Linked DNA regions of Homo sapiens. The protein of the gene in region 2 purifies or fractionates together with the protein of the main gene of each other region. This does not show direct contact. Each region holds a gene or a part of one and is shown on either strand. Other genes may lie near its edges.

Region 1 (7,337 bases), on a different chromosome or scaffold from region 2:
CCTCCAAAGGAGGCTTTCCTTTAGCTGGAAATATACTGAATAAAAAACAAAAACTTCTTTTTTTTTTGAGACGGAGTCTCACTCTGTCGCCCAGGCTGGAGTGCAGTGGTGCGATCTTGGCTCACTGCAAGCTCCGCCTCCCGGGTTCACGCCATTCTCCTGCCTCAGCCTCCCGAGTAGCTGGGACTACAGGCACCTGCCACCACGCCTGGCTAATTTTTTGTATTTTTAGTAGAGACGGGGTTTCACAGTGTTAGCCAGGATGGTCTCGATCTCCTGACCTTGTTATCCGCCTGCCTTGGCCTCCCAAAGTGCTGGGATTACAGGCGTGAGCCACCGCGCCCAGCCAACAGACTTCTTTAAAAGAAGCTGGGCTACAAAGTTCAGTTAATAAATTGTGTGGAAAACCATGCCCCTCATGTAGATAAAGTGCATAATACAGTTCTCTCAATATGCAGCAGAAAAGGTAGGAAACAGGTGTCTCTGTTCCCACTACATTACTACAACTCTTATAAACTGCAAACAAAATACTATGCCAAAAATGCCAAAATGCACATAGCTGATAGGTTAACTTTCCAAACAAATATATACCTATTAATGTCAATGCGTTAACTGTAAACTGAATCATAACACTCAATTAAAAGAAAGTGTGGCCGGGCGCAGTGGCTCACGCCTGTAATCCCTGCACTTTGGGAGGCTGAGGCAGGTGGATCACCTGAGGTCAGGAGTTCAAGACCAGCCTGGCCAACATGATGAAACCCCGTCTCTAGTAAAAATACAAAAAATTAGCTAGGCGTGGTGGCACACGCCTGTAATCCCAAGCTGAGTCAGGAGAATCAGTTCCTTGAACCCAGGAGGCGGAGGTTGCAGTGAGCCAAGATCACTCCAGCCTGGGCAACAAGAGCACAACTCAGTCTCAAAAAAAAAAAAAAAAAAAAAAAAAAAAAGAAAGTGCACCACAACATGACTATATCTCAGATTTTTTGTTGTTTTTTTATTTTTTATTTTTTGATGGGAACTGGCTGTGTTACCCAGGCTAGAGTGCAGTGGCACCCATCATAGCTTACTGCAGTCTTGAACTTCTCAACTCAAGTAGTCCTCCCACCTCAGACTCCCAAAGTGTTGGGATTACAAGCATGAATCACCTCACGCCACAAATATTTCAACTTTAATTATGAATCTGAGTTAATATCTTGAATTAAAATTACATATGAATTTTAAATGTTACCAATACATAAAAATCAATCATGGATTGAAATTTTATTAATACAAAGTGAACTCTACACAGGAAGATTTATAAAGACTTCTCTTCCCTATTTTGTTTTTTTGTGTTTTTTTTTTTTTTTTTTTGAGACGGAGTCTCGCTCTGTTGCTCAGACTGGAGTGCAATGGCACAATATCGGCCCACTGCAACCTCTGCCTCCCGGGTTCAAGCGATTCTGTTGCCTCAGCCTCCCGATTAGCTGGGACTACAGGCGCCTGCCACTACGCCCGTCTAATTTTTGTATTTTCAGTAGAGACCTGGTTTCACCATATTGGACAGGCTGGTCTCGAACTCCTGACCTTGTGATCCACCCGCCTCAACCTCCTAAAATGCTGGATCACAGGCGTGAACGCACCCGGCCCCTATTTTCAGTTTTCATAAGTAAGCTCTAGTTAAGTCTTCAATACATATTAAATAGCACCTTATACAAACTTGAACTAAGGCAACACGTCCTTCGTTTAAAAAAAAGTTGGATGAACCCTCCTTAGTACCTAAGCTTTTTTTCCCAACTACTTTTCAAACATCAGTTTAATGTTACAAACACAATTCCATTCACCTTCCGTTGTTTTTTTGTTTTGTTTTGTTTTGTTTTTTGTTTCCGAAACAAAAACAGCTGGAAACTCACTTATTGTGTACTTACTACTCCAGGCACACGTTTGTAAATACATGTGAATGGAAATATAAAAGGAATTGTGAAACCCTGTCCCTAACAGGTTTTTTTCCCTGACAAAAAGCCAACGAAAGTCAAAAGACCTCAAATTCAAGTTGGAACATGATTTAAAACTAACGGAGCACTAGTAGCGGGAACACTAGCAGCATGATCACTTAACACGGTCTCCTAGGACATTTGTTTCCAAAAAAGAATTCTCGAGTAACCAAAGGTATGCAGATGCGTGAAACGCAGGAGCAGATGATAAACAGTCTGGATGCAGAAGAGCAGAGACCAAAGTACTACCAGGCAATGGACAGCGAACTCCTGGAAGTCTTGAGGTTATCCTTTGGCTCAACACGTAAAACCCTAAGGGTGCGGATAATCAAAAGACACAGCGATGAGGTACTGGGGTAGCTGCTTCAAGGAGATGAGAAGACTGGGATGCCAAGAACGCTTTAATTGCAGACGGGGAAATGAGACTGAAAGACCAACCTGAGATGGCAAAGCGACAGTGAAAACTAGCAAGTCTTTGAAATTTAGGCGCAGCCCAGGACAGCCTGAGGCCCAGGCTAGCTTAAGTCACAGATACAGGCCTAGTGAGCAATGGGGAGAAACTGAGGCGGGGGGGAGCGGCTGGATTCCCAAATAGGACCAAGCATAAAACATTAAAGTCAAGACACAAACCGGCTTTGCTGGGGGACCAGAGGGAGGGCCAAAAACGCAAGACTCAGAAGACCGGCACCCACACAGACAGGGGGAACCGGTTTGGGCAGGGGCTCCCAGAGCGGCCCAGCCTGCGCATGCGCCCTCTCCCCTCCGTCGCAGTTCCCCCTCCCCCCAATCACGGCTCCCCTCAGAACTCGGCCCGTCGAGGGAGCTGAGAGCAGCTCCACTGGCCCGACCCCGCGGGATGAGAAGACAGCTTGGCTCCCCGCAGGGGCCGTCGGAAAATACCCCTGGGGTTGGTAGGTAGGAGGGTGGGAGGAGGAGGAGGGGAAACACGGCCCTACCCGACCTGCCGTCTCCTCCTCCGCCGCCCGCCGCTCGCCGTCCCGGAGGCTCCGCCGCCTGGGCCTCCCAAACCGCCCTGTCCCCGCCCCCCCACCCCTTTACTCACGTGAGAGCGACTTCTTCCGCCCTCCGCCCCGCCCCCTGCCCCGTCTCATAGGTCTGCGACCATGACGAGCGACCCTATTGGCCCAATACCGGGAAGCGAGGCGGAGCTTCCTCTTCTCCGAGCCCCACCTGGGCTTTCAGCCCGCCTCAGGACTGTGCGCCTGCGCGAAGTGCACTGGCTGTGAGCTGGACCTGGGCTGTCTTGTGTATTTGGAGTTGGACAGCCAACTACGTGACTGCAGCCGGGACTGGGGACGATGGAAGCGGACTGGGTAGTACCTGTTGAGCCTAACAAAGGGTACAACCCCAGAGTACTGGTGCTTGAGCAAGGAATCCCCCTGCTCACCTTTCATGTGCAAGTCCTGTTTGAAAATCAGTACTTCACAGTGTAATAAAATTCACCTGGCATTTACTGAGGGCGCACGGTGTGTCAGGGATTGTGATGGTTCTTTATGTGGCTATCTCATTTCAGCTTCACCACAAACCCGTCAGAATGGTACCATTTTTCTCCTTTTATAAAGTAATTTAGCTTTAGTTACAGAATCCAGTCTAGAAGTCAAAACTTCCGACTGCCAAGTCCTAAAACCACTGGTACAACACAGCTGCCTAAAGGCATTTAAGGCACACAAGAGGACAGAAATGGACAAGGTTACATCAGATTGTGACTCAAAGATGAGATTTTTATTTAAAAATCATTCAAAGGTGAAACACAGCAACAGCAATATAATGAAGTTTAAAGTCCCTGTCCTCAATGAATGTACAATGCAGTTGGGAACAAAAACAATGATTATTAAAGTGCTAGTTAAGTCTTATTTTTAAAGAGACCCTATCTTGTCCAGGATGCAGTGCTGTGGCTATTCACAGACGATCATATCACACTCCACCCTCGAACTCCTGGGCTCAAGCTATCCTACCACCTCAGCCTCCTGAGTAGCTGGGACTGTACATAGGCATGCACCACTGCACCTGGCTCATAAGACTTGATAATTTATAAAATAATTCTACAGCCTCTTCCTTACTCTTCCCCTTTATTTATTCCAACTGGCATATGCTCTTTTCCTGGTGAGTGAGTCGTCTACAGTGTTTTCTGGTGGATAATGCATCCCGATCAACCAGAGAAAAAACAGTGAGAAAAATCTGTGTTCTGTTGCAATCCCTCTGTGATTTGTCTAATACAATAGATGTGGGTGTACCCCTGCAGAAAAATAGTTTCGCTTCCTTTCTCCTTATACAGTTACAAAATATCCATTTCAAGATATTCAAAGAATAAAGTATTAGGGAGAAAGTAAAATCCCCTGAACTCCCAACAAAACCACTTTTAACGTTTTGGTGCCCATACTTTCATGTATTTCTTGATTCATGGACACCCCAAATATTTATGTAAATCTTAACATACATTTTTAAATAAAATTGTACTACACAATCAGTACAACATGCTTTGGAGAATAGACACAAGCTAAAACAACAACAAAAAAAGAAAACATTGCATTTAAAAAAAATTTTTTTTAATAAAAAAGGCCAGGTGTGGTGGCTCATGCCTGTAATTTTAACACTTTGGGAGGCTGAGGTGGGAGGATGGCTTGAGCCTAGGAGTTCGAGACCAGCCTGGGCAACATAGTGAGACCGTGTCTCTATGTTTTAATGAAAAACAAAAAAAAACCATGGCATTCCCAGGGCCAATGTTAATACTTTAGAGTATATCCTTCTGTGTGTGTGTATTTTTTTTTTCAAAATGAGATCACTTTAGTCATCTCCTTTTTCAATTAAAAATATCTACCTTATTTCAGTACATTTTCTTCTCACCTAATTCCTAGATCACATTCACATTTTCTATCCATCTAAAGTTATTTTTACAGTTGGCTTTCTTAACTCAGTAATGTTACAGGAAAATTTCCTCTCACATAATACCTAACTACAATCAAATATTCTGTTGACCAAATTATATTTTTCTACAACCAGTATACCCAAATTATCCAATTCAGGACCATACATTCCATCTGGTTACATCCCTTGACTTTTTAATTATGGCACTTAAAAAAAAATTAAAAGATTCTTGTTCACTGTAGAAATCAGGCCACTTGAAGTGCAAAATGTTTTTATCTGAGTGGTTGCTTCCTCATGAAGTCATTGAGCTTGTTCCTGCAAGCCTTGTATTTCTTGAACAAGAAAGTTATATTTGAAGACTCAGTGGATTCAAGTCAAACATATCAGACTAGTATACCTCACAAGTGACAGGTTATACTTCATGTTTCATTATATTACATACAACGTTATGAATCTAACATGTTAGATATTATGTTAGATACATAACATTGTATCTACAATAGATATAACATTTATTGTATCTTACAGAGTTATGCTAATATTGACCACTGGATTAGTGATGACATACATGTTGTTTTTATCATCTAATCCATTTTAAAAATAGACTATAGTCTGTTTCAATGCCTACCAATGCTATATATTGATATCCCATTCACAGAAAATGAATTTTGGTTTCCAAATATGCTCAACTTTTTTTCAGTAAGTGACTTTGTACCCAAGAAAATGTGGTTACAGTATATGAATGGAATGTGGGGCTGGTGTGAAATAAAGCAATGTAGTAGGCTGGAGCCAAAATAGGAAGGTCCTTGAATGCTAAAATAAGGAAACTGAAGTTCACTCTATAGACACACGGGTGCCCTTGGATATTTTAAAGGACAGTGACAATATTAGATTTGGGGTTTTTTTAAAGATCACTCTAGTAAAACTAGAGCAGGGAAAAGGGGAGGTTGATAGAATAGTTTGGAGGCTGCCTAAGATGAGGAAGGCTTGAGCTAAGGAAGCAGGAGGTAAAACGAAGGAACAGGGTTCCGCGGGTATTTTACAAAGAAATATATTCAAATTTGCTGGTTCTTTCTTCTGCTCATTCAAATCTGTTTTTGAACCCCTCTATGTAAATTTTTCATTTCAGTTACTGTATCTTTCAGGTCTAGAATTTCATTTCAGCTCCTTTTTTTTCTAAGAGTCTCGCTCTGTCACCCAGGCTGGAGTGCAGTGGTGCAATCTGGGTGCACTGCAACCTCCACCTCCTGGGTTCAAGTGATTCTCCTGCCTTACCCTCCTGAGTAGCTGGGAACACAGGCATGCCACCACACCCAGCTAGTTCTTGTATTTTTAGTAGAGATGAGGTTTCACCATGTTGGCCAGGCTGGTCTCGAACTCCTGACCTCATGATCCACGAGCCTTGGCCTCCCAAAGTGCTGGGATTACCGGCATGAGCCATCACACCTGGCCTCAGCTCCTTTTTATAATTTCTCTTTAATGATAGTCTAATTTTATTCATACATTGTTTTCCTGACTTTGTTCATGTCTTCCTTTAGTCCTTTTTCTGTTTGTTTGTTTTTTTTTGGAGATAGAGTCTCACTCTGTCACCCAGGCTGGAGAGCAGTGGCAGGAACTCAACTCACTGCAAACTCCGCCTCCCAGGTTCAAGCAATTCTCCTCCCTCAGCCTCCTGAAAAGCTGAGATTACAGGCGTACGCCACCATGCCCAGCTAATTTTTGTATTTAGTAGAGACAGGGTTTCACCATGTTGGCCAGGCTGGTCTCGAACTCCTGACCTCAGGTGATCTGCCCACCTTGGCTTCCCAAAGCGCTGGGATTACAGGCGTGAGCCACCCCACGCCCAGCCCTGTTAGTTCTTCGAACGACTTCAAAATAGTTGTTTTAAAGCCTTTGTCTATTAACTCAGACATCTATCTTGGCTTCTGTGGGAATAGTTTGAGTTGATTTATTTTGTTCTTCTGAATTGACCATACTTTCCTGTTTATTTGTATGTCTTGTGATTTTTTTAAAAATTTTATTTTTCAACTAGAGATGGGGTCTCACTATGTTGCCCAGTAACAACCAATTAAGTGGGACTACAACCACATGCCACCACATTTGGCTTCACTTTAAATCCTTATGATTTGTTGTTGTTGAAAATTGAACATTTGAATCTCATAATGTGGTGAATCTGAAAATAAGATTCTCCTGCCCCCATGTTTGCTGGGCTTTTGTAATTGTCTCTGTGCTGGGGATCAGGATCAGCCTCGGGTGAAAGCTTAAGGTTTTCTCAGGTCTTTTCTTAGCCTGTGTCTTTCCCTGGTTATATGCAGTAGCTTTCTACTTTCCCCTGCCTAAGTGATTGCTTTTGAATATCCTAATCCTTCAATATCTGACTCATAAATGGAGTAAAAGGGAAGCAAACAAACAAAACAGGTGCTATTCTTTTAAAACCCTTGGAAAGAGGTTCAGCTGGTGGGGGGTCAAAACAGTGGCAAC
Region 2 (7,785 bases):
GGCATCACCAAAAAAGTGATGGGAGCATGCCTCCTTTATAATTTTGCAAAGCCTTCTTGATTTTGTGCCTTAAAAATGAAATATTTCATAACAAAACCTAATTAATGTTTGAATTATGACCTGACCTAGGTACAAAACTATGGTAGGCAGAATAATGCCCTCCTGCAAAGAAGTCCATGTCCTAATCCTTAGCCCCTGTGAATATGTTATCTTATGTGGAAAAGAGACTTTGCAGATGTGATCAAGTTGAGGATGTTGAGATGGGGAGATTATCTTGGGTCATCTAGTTGGTCTTAATGTCATCACAAAGGTCTTTATAAGTGAAAGTGGGACAGAGTCAGGAGGACATGTGCTGCTGGTTTTGAAGGTGTAGAAAGGGGCTATAAGTGGAGAAATGCAGAGAGCCTCTAGAAAAGGCTAGAAAATGCAAGGGAACAAATTCTCCCCAAGAGACTCCAGTAAGGAATAGTTTATTTTACCCTGGTACCATGACAGGCTTCTAACCTACAGAACTTTATAACAAAAAATGTGCACTGTTGTAAGCAGCCAAGTGTGGTTATTTGTTACAGTACCCACAGAAAACTTATAAAACAGCAAATGCAGTGCCTCAAGCACTTTATGGGAAGACCTAAGTGGGACACCCAACATAAACTGGGGAGCTCAGGGAACGTTTCCCTATACACAGGAAATAAATGGAGAAGGAGTTTCCAGGTCAAAGAGGAGGAGAAAGAACATTCTAGTCTAGGAGTTGGGGGTGGGGGTGAGACAAGAGCAACAAAAGGAATAAGGTAAGAAACGAGAGTTGGTTTGGAACACTACAAATCATCCAGCCTTGTTGAAAAACAATGTGGCAAGAGATGAAGCAGGAGGGGTGGATGGGGGAGAGCAAAGCAACTTCTCTCCCTGGAGAAGTGTTTAGGCTTTTAATAAGAGCTCATGGGGAGACAATGAAATGTTTTAAAGAATGGTGTGTGTTTGTGTGTGTGTATGCGCACGTGTTAGAGGCTGGAAATGACAGTAAAATTTGCATTTAAAATTGCACTAAATATATGTATGTGTGTATAGACACACACATGTATTTTAAATGCAAATTTAAAATAATATTAAAATAAAATAATTTTAATACATTTTAAATGCAAATTTTAAATAAAATAAAATTGCACTAAGTACACGCACACGTGTGTGCGCGCACACACACACACAACTTTCCCTTTCAGCAAATAATCCCTGAACAGAAATAAACAAGAGCGATTTCAAATATGAGCCTGGGTCCAAATGCCACAAGCCACAGGCTCTGAATGTCACAAGGCAGGGTGTTAGATTTACAATTAGACCCTCTTTGAACGTGGGTGACAATTCACAGTGTTCTTCAGGAGAGGAGACTGCATCTGCTGCTTTCTTCTGCACCCTCAATCCCTCCTCTTTTTAGTGGAGTGAGTAGGAGAACGGATTTATTCAACGAGGGCACTCTGGGTGGTTTGGGGATGCTTTAGTCCCCGGGACCTAATCTCTATCAGACCCAACCAAAGCCATTCCGAAAATTATGTAATAGCAATACTTTTTCTTAATGTGGATAATCTTAAAAGTGTAAAGATATACAGCTCTAGGAAAATTTTAAATGGTTTGTACATATGCTGTCATAAAAATAATAATCAAAGGCAGTAGCTGTAAGAGAAATCCATAAACATCAATCCCTGCCTCATCCCTAATCCCCCAATATCCAACCTCTGAGAAACACCACTGGAGTTTTAAATTAATAATAGTTTATAGATTCTCCTGAGCTTCCCTGTGGAGGTTGCTAATATATTGTAACTCCACACTCTCATGAATCCTGAGTTTACTCTGCTCCCCTCCACAAAAGTTTTATTAAAGTTACTGAGAAAATAGTCTATTTGCAGAACTATGAAATAAAACTATGATTTCATTCTAATTAGAATGACCACTTTCACTTAAAGTCTCTCCTCTCCCGCCCAGAAACGTACACAAGAATCTCAGCTTCATCTCTGACCTTGTCGCTTTCTTCTGGGATATTGTCTTAGTTCCAGGGGCTATAACAAAATAACATAGACTGGTATTAACTGGCTTCAACCACAGTTATTTATTTCTCACAGTTCTGGAGGTTGGGCAGTCCAAGATCAAGGCACCCAGAGATGTGGTGTCTGTGGAGGCCTGCTTCCTGGTTTGCAGATGGCTGCTTTCTTGCTGTGTTATCACATGACAGATATCTCTTCTCTCTCTCTCCCTCTCTTTATTTGAGACAGAGTCTCACTCTGTTACCCAGGCTGGAGGGCAGTGGTACACTGTCAGCTCACTACAGCCTCTACCTCCCAGGCTGAAGTGATCCTTTCGCCTCAGCCTCCTGAGTAGCTGGGACTACAGGAGTGCACCACCATGCTCAGCTAATTTTTGTATATTTTGTAGAGATGAGGTTTTGCCATATTGCCCAGGCTGGTTTCAAACTCCTGGGCTCAAGCGATTCACCTGCCTTGGCCTCCCAAAGAGATGGAACTATAGGCATGAGTCACTATTCCCAGCCTTTTGTCTCTTCTTAGAAGGGCACTAAAACCCACTCATGAGGGCTCTACCTTCATGACCTAATTACTTCCCGAAGACCCCACTTTCACCACCACGTTGGGGATTAGGATTTCATTATATAAACTTTTAGGGGGGAACACAAATCATTCAGTCCATAGCAGATATGGTGAGTCTTAGGTATGAAATGTTTTCCTTTAACTCTTACTTTTCTAACTTTGTTAAAAATAGTTGAAAGATAGAAAATGAGTTAGCTCTGCAGTTCTGGAGTACTCACTGGTACTTCACCGCATCCTGTGTTTACCCAGCTCAACCCAAGCTAATGGAGAAGTAGATTTCCTTCTCCAGGAAGGGTCAAGGCCAGGAAGAGAGGTGGACAGGTCTCAGAAAGCAGGCAGTGTCAAATGCTGAGCAAAAGCCAAGCTCAGAAGGAGGAAATGTGGTGTTTATGGAACCAACTTGCAAATGCAAACATGAGCAAACCAAAGCAATGTAACAAATGATCCTCAACAGCTGGGTTTCTTCAATGCTGAAACTTGTAATAAACATCCATGGCTATCTTTGGAACACGATTTGTCTGTAAACATACATACATCTATTTACTAGAACCACAAGGATTAGTTAACAAAAAAATTACCTAAGAACCATCAACTTTCACTTCTCCAATTGGGTCACAATCTACAAGTTAATCTGCTAGGAAAAAAAAAAAATAACATTCCTCTCTAACTGTGGTGGGAATCAGTAATCATAGGATTCCCAGGAAGATTCTGAAAAGCCCTTGGATATTGAAGGATTTGGGTTGCAGTTTTCTCAATCTGTTAGATGTTGAGGGGGGGCGGAGGAAATACACCTTTTTTTTTTCCCCACAATCCTAAAAGTTTATGAACTTTCAGAGAGACACAGGAGCCAACCTGAAAGAGTTCCCAGTGGTCAAAGCTGGAACCATTTGAGCAACAAAATTAATAATGTAGTATTGAATTCTAGCCCAAAGTATAAAATAAATATACATGGGTCCATACTGACATAACAAATACTGACATAAATGATTGAATAAACAAGAGAGATGGAACAAATCTTCCTTACAGAATCATTCTAAATAATAACATATAGATACTCCCTGCTCTGGGATGGAGTTTAATCTTGCCCTCATCTTGAGTGTCAGCTGAATTGAGTCATGCCATTCATGCCATTCAGAGTAGAGTGTATGGAAAGAGAAAAACAGCTTTGCAGTAGAGAAACCTGGCAGACACAACCTTAACTATGGGATCAAGGTCAAGTCACCAGTGATAAGTCACCTGGCCATCGTGCCATCGTCCCTGAGAGGATGCAGTGGGGAAGGCACTTCATCTCTGAGTCTTTCCTCCCCCCAGTCTCATCATGAGAAAAAAACAGTAGACAATACCCACATGAGTGGGTGTCGAGGTACCCCCACAAAACTATACCTTACCAGAATACTTCATCACAATACTTTACTAGAATTCTTTACAGCTGTCAAAGTCAAGAAAAGACAGAGAAACTGTCATGGATTAGAGGAGACAAAGGGCACAGGATGCTAAATGCAGTGTGGTATCCTGGCTGGGATCCTGAAAGGGAAAGGCGTTAGCCAAAAAGCTAGTGACAGCTACATCAAGTCTGGAGTAGTGTTAATAGTGGCAGATCAATGTTAATGTCTTTTAAAAAATATTTTTAGTAGAAATGAGGTCTCGCTATGTTGCCCAGGCTGGTCTCGAACTCCTGAGCTCAAGCGATCCTCCCGCCTGCCTTGGCCTCTCAAAATGCTGAGATTACCAAGGCGTGAGCCACCGCACCTGGCCCAATGTGAATTTCTTAGTTTTGACAAATGTGCCACAGTTATGGAAGCTGTAGGCATTAGGAGACACCGACTGAGGGGTATATAGACGACTCTCTCTACTATCTTTGCAACTTTTTTTAAGTTCCAAAAGAAAGTTTTTTAAAAAAACAACAAAATTGCACTTGTACTCCATAAATTTATACTAAAAACAATAAAATCAAAAATTATTTAAAAAACAAAAACAAAAGTTTATAAACTTAGGGTGCAAATAGAACCTTCTTGAAAAGCAGCGGCCGATCCCCTCCCCCCACCCGCCTGTACAGCACCCTAGCGAGGGGCGTGAGGGGCAGAGCCTGGCTCTCCAGCGCTGGGCGTACGCGTCCTGCCGCGACTCCTCCCCGGGGCCTCACCGGCGCCGGACTCTGCCCTGGGCGCGCCCCGCGGGGCGGAGCCAAGCCTGCGGGCGGTGGCGGCTGCACTCGCAGGGCCCTGGCAGCCGACCCTGGCCCCAAGGTCCGATCGCCCAGGGGAGGAGCAGCACCGGGACCCCGCGTCGGCTGGGCGCCCCACAAGGTAGGCGAGTCTGGCCACCTTCGGGCCCGGTCCCTGCGGCGCGCCCCCGCATCCCCTCCATGTGTGTGGGTGTCCAGGTGCCTTTCCAGCGGCTTCCCCAGTGGAGTTCCTGGCATCAAGGACATTTCCTGTAAAAGGGTCCTTGTTGAAGAGGTAATCCTCCCTGGAAACCTCGGTTCTGGGCTCGAATTTCCTGGGCGAGAAGTTTCTTCCCCATTGGGAAGAGCTGCTTTTCCGCAGAGAGGAACCCCTACTTAGTCCGGCGCACACCTGATTATTTATTTAGGTTGTTGTTATACAATCCGTTTGTCAGGGGTCCCCGCGATTTCTGCCTGCTAATTTCAGAGGCTATGGAGAAAAGTCCTGCGGTAAACGCCCTGACCTAGGAACTCCAGCGTGGTGGCTTTGACAGGTCACTGCGCTCGCATTTTTTAAAGAGCAGAGATGAATGAAGGTGGCTGTCTTCATTCATTTGTGCGGGCTTCTGCAGCCGCAGGTGTAGTAAAAAGAGCAGCCCATTGCTTGACCTTTTCCTTAATGTTGAGTAGCATCATGATATTTTAGATGTGGAAGTTACAGAGTGCTAGGCGGCTAGACAAAGGAACACTCTTATCTTACTGAAGGTTAGTACGGGACCGTGCAAGTGTAGTTTTTAGATTGGATGATAACATAGCTGTGAATTTTCAGCCTTTTTGGAAGTGAAGACAAAATTGAATATAAGGATCAGAACAAGCAACAAGCCCTGAACATAACTGAAGGTGTACCTGCTCCCCATTATATTCTGATTGTTTTATTTTAGGAATCAAAACCTCTTTTACTTTCTTGGTGTATATAGTTCGGATGAAGTGTCAGAATACAAAAAGGAATTATTCTGTGTTTGTGATAGGGAGGAGATAATCTGTTCTTTTGATTTTACCTAATGCCATTAAATATTCAGAGCTACTGAAGTCTGGTTTTCCTGATATGTGAGCTGGGCAGGAGTGTCAGGTACCCTGGCAGACACAATTGGTGCTGTTGTTATGCTTTTCCCCCGCTGCCCACTCTCTTCCCCACCCCACTCCCAATTTGAGAGGGAAGGCCCCTGACACAGAGGAATTTCTGCCCAAGGCAGGGAGTATCCCCGTGTGGTTCCTCAAATGTTTGCAGAAAGAATGAAAACAACTACACTTCTTGGGACCCAGGCCAACGTCATAAGGCCGACGTCATAAGAAGGTTCTTTCCTCTTGTTATTTACAAAATAAATTGATCCCTTGTCCTAACTAGAAAGAGACTTTTGAAATTAATACTGTTGCTATTTTGTGAATTACTGATAGGCATGTTATTTGTTAGCTTATTTGTTTACAGTATGCTCAACATTGAAGGTGAGTTGTAATCCAAATTTTGGCCAAAGCTAAAAAATGTAAGCTAGATTTAGACAAACCTGAAAAATGAGGTGTTTATTTGCTTGGAATAATGACTGAAAGGGGAAATAACTGAAGATTTTGATGGGAATGTAAAAGTCTTTTAAAATAGTAGTTTCTCATCTTTAGAACTGAGATATTTACATCAAAATTATATGGCTATTTATTGATTGAAAACATTTCATAATGGCAAAATTTTACCATGAATTTACTAACACGTTTAAATGAATGTCATTTACTAAGCACAAAAACAGCCATTTATATAGGTTTGGAAAATGAGAGAGAGAGAGAGAGAGAGAGAGAGAGAGTGTGTGTGTGTGTGTGTACATTGTTTTAGAAACTATTTGGTACATCTGTAAATTTGTGGGCCTATTCATGTATTCATTGAAACAATATTTATTGAGGACACTGTGTTCTGTGTGGGAGAACCAGATGGGAGGGGAAGTAGGGTCTGGGCCAAACACAGCCCTGTGTAAATCAGACACATTTCTATCCTCCTGGAATTTACTACATTGGAGTCCTCCAGGCCACCCCAAGTCAAGGCCATAGATTTACAGACCACATAAATGATCCATTCAATTTCGACAGTGACTAAAACTAGATTAGTTTCAAATCACATATTTCCTTTCACTGATTTAAAAAGTCAAGTCTAAAAATGATAGAGGAGCTTGCATGTTATTCTGCTCAGTGGTTTTCTCTTTTGTTTAGGTTGGGGAAGAACTTAGGAATCATGTGTTCCAGGCTTAATGTTATGAAATATTAACTTAAAATAGCTAAGTATCAATTTCATGCAAATTAAATAAAAACTAAACTTGTAGTATGGATGACAATAATCTAGAGACAAAAATTAATGAACAAAAAATTTAAAACTGAAAAACATCTATCCATTAAATTATATTTTTTCCTATAAATTAGAAAAATAAGACTACAGTTACATTCACCCCACCCCCAGAGGAAAACAGCATCTTTATTCAAGTTATTCTTACTTTTCCTTCTGTATTTTTTTTTAAAAAAGCTTTATTGGAGGTATAATTTACATACCATAAAATACATCCAAGTGTATAATTCAATGATTTTTGGTAAATTTACTGAATGGTGCAACCATTAGCACAATCCAATTTTAGATCACTTCATCATTCCCCAAATATCCCTGGGGCCTGTTTGCAATCACTCACCGTTCTTACCCCAGCCCCAGCAACCCCTAATCTATTTTGTCTGTTTAGATCTGCCTTTTCTGGACATTTCATACAGATGGAATCGTACAATATATAGTCTTTAGCATCTGGCTTTTTTCAGTTAGAATAGCTGTTGAGGTTTATTCAGGTTGTCACATGTAGCTGTAGTTGGTTCCTTTTTATTGCTTAACTAGGATTTATTCCATGCCATGGCTATGCCGCATTTTGTTCACCATTTGGTAGACCTTTCTGCAAATACTTTTGCATGGTAAAACAGATACATTGGTGCAGCTTCTATGGTAGCATAATGTGA

The links. Proteins that work in one complex are often made in the same cells at the same time.
Region 1: the proteins of CCDC68 (region 2) and RABGAP1 purify together in Homo sapiens (affinity purification with mass spectrometry; 4 studies listed by BioGRID and IntAct, with this or other methods). This does not show direct contact.

Annotation. Positions count from the first base shown.
Region 1 is NC_000009.12:122,936,683-122,944,019, reverse strand, and holds the start of RABGAP1 (rab GTPase-activating protein 1), read right to left. Parts: upstream 3,001-7,337; 5' UTR 2,927-3,000; intron 2,882-2,926; exon of another isoform or gene 2,772-2,881; intron 1-2,771. UniProt on the Homo sapiens protein: May act as a GTPase-activating protein of RAB6A. May play a role in microtubule nucleation by centrosome. May participate in a RAB6A-mediated pathway involved in the metaphase-anaphase transition.
Region 2 is NC_000018.10:54,956,448-54,964,232, reverse strand, and holds the start of CCDC68 (coiled-coil domain-containing protein 68), read left to right. Parts: upstream 1-4,771; 5' UTR 4,772-4,897; exon of another isoform or gene 4,898-5,050; intron 5,051-6,184; exon of another isoform or gene 6,185-6,258; intron 6,259-7,785. UniProt on the Homo sapiens protein: Centriolar protein required for centriole subdistal appendage assembly and microtubule anchoring in interphase cells. Together with CCDC120, cooperate with subdistal appendage components ODF2, NIN and CEP170 for hierarchical subdistal appendage assembly.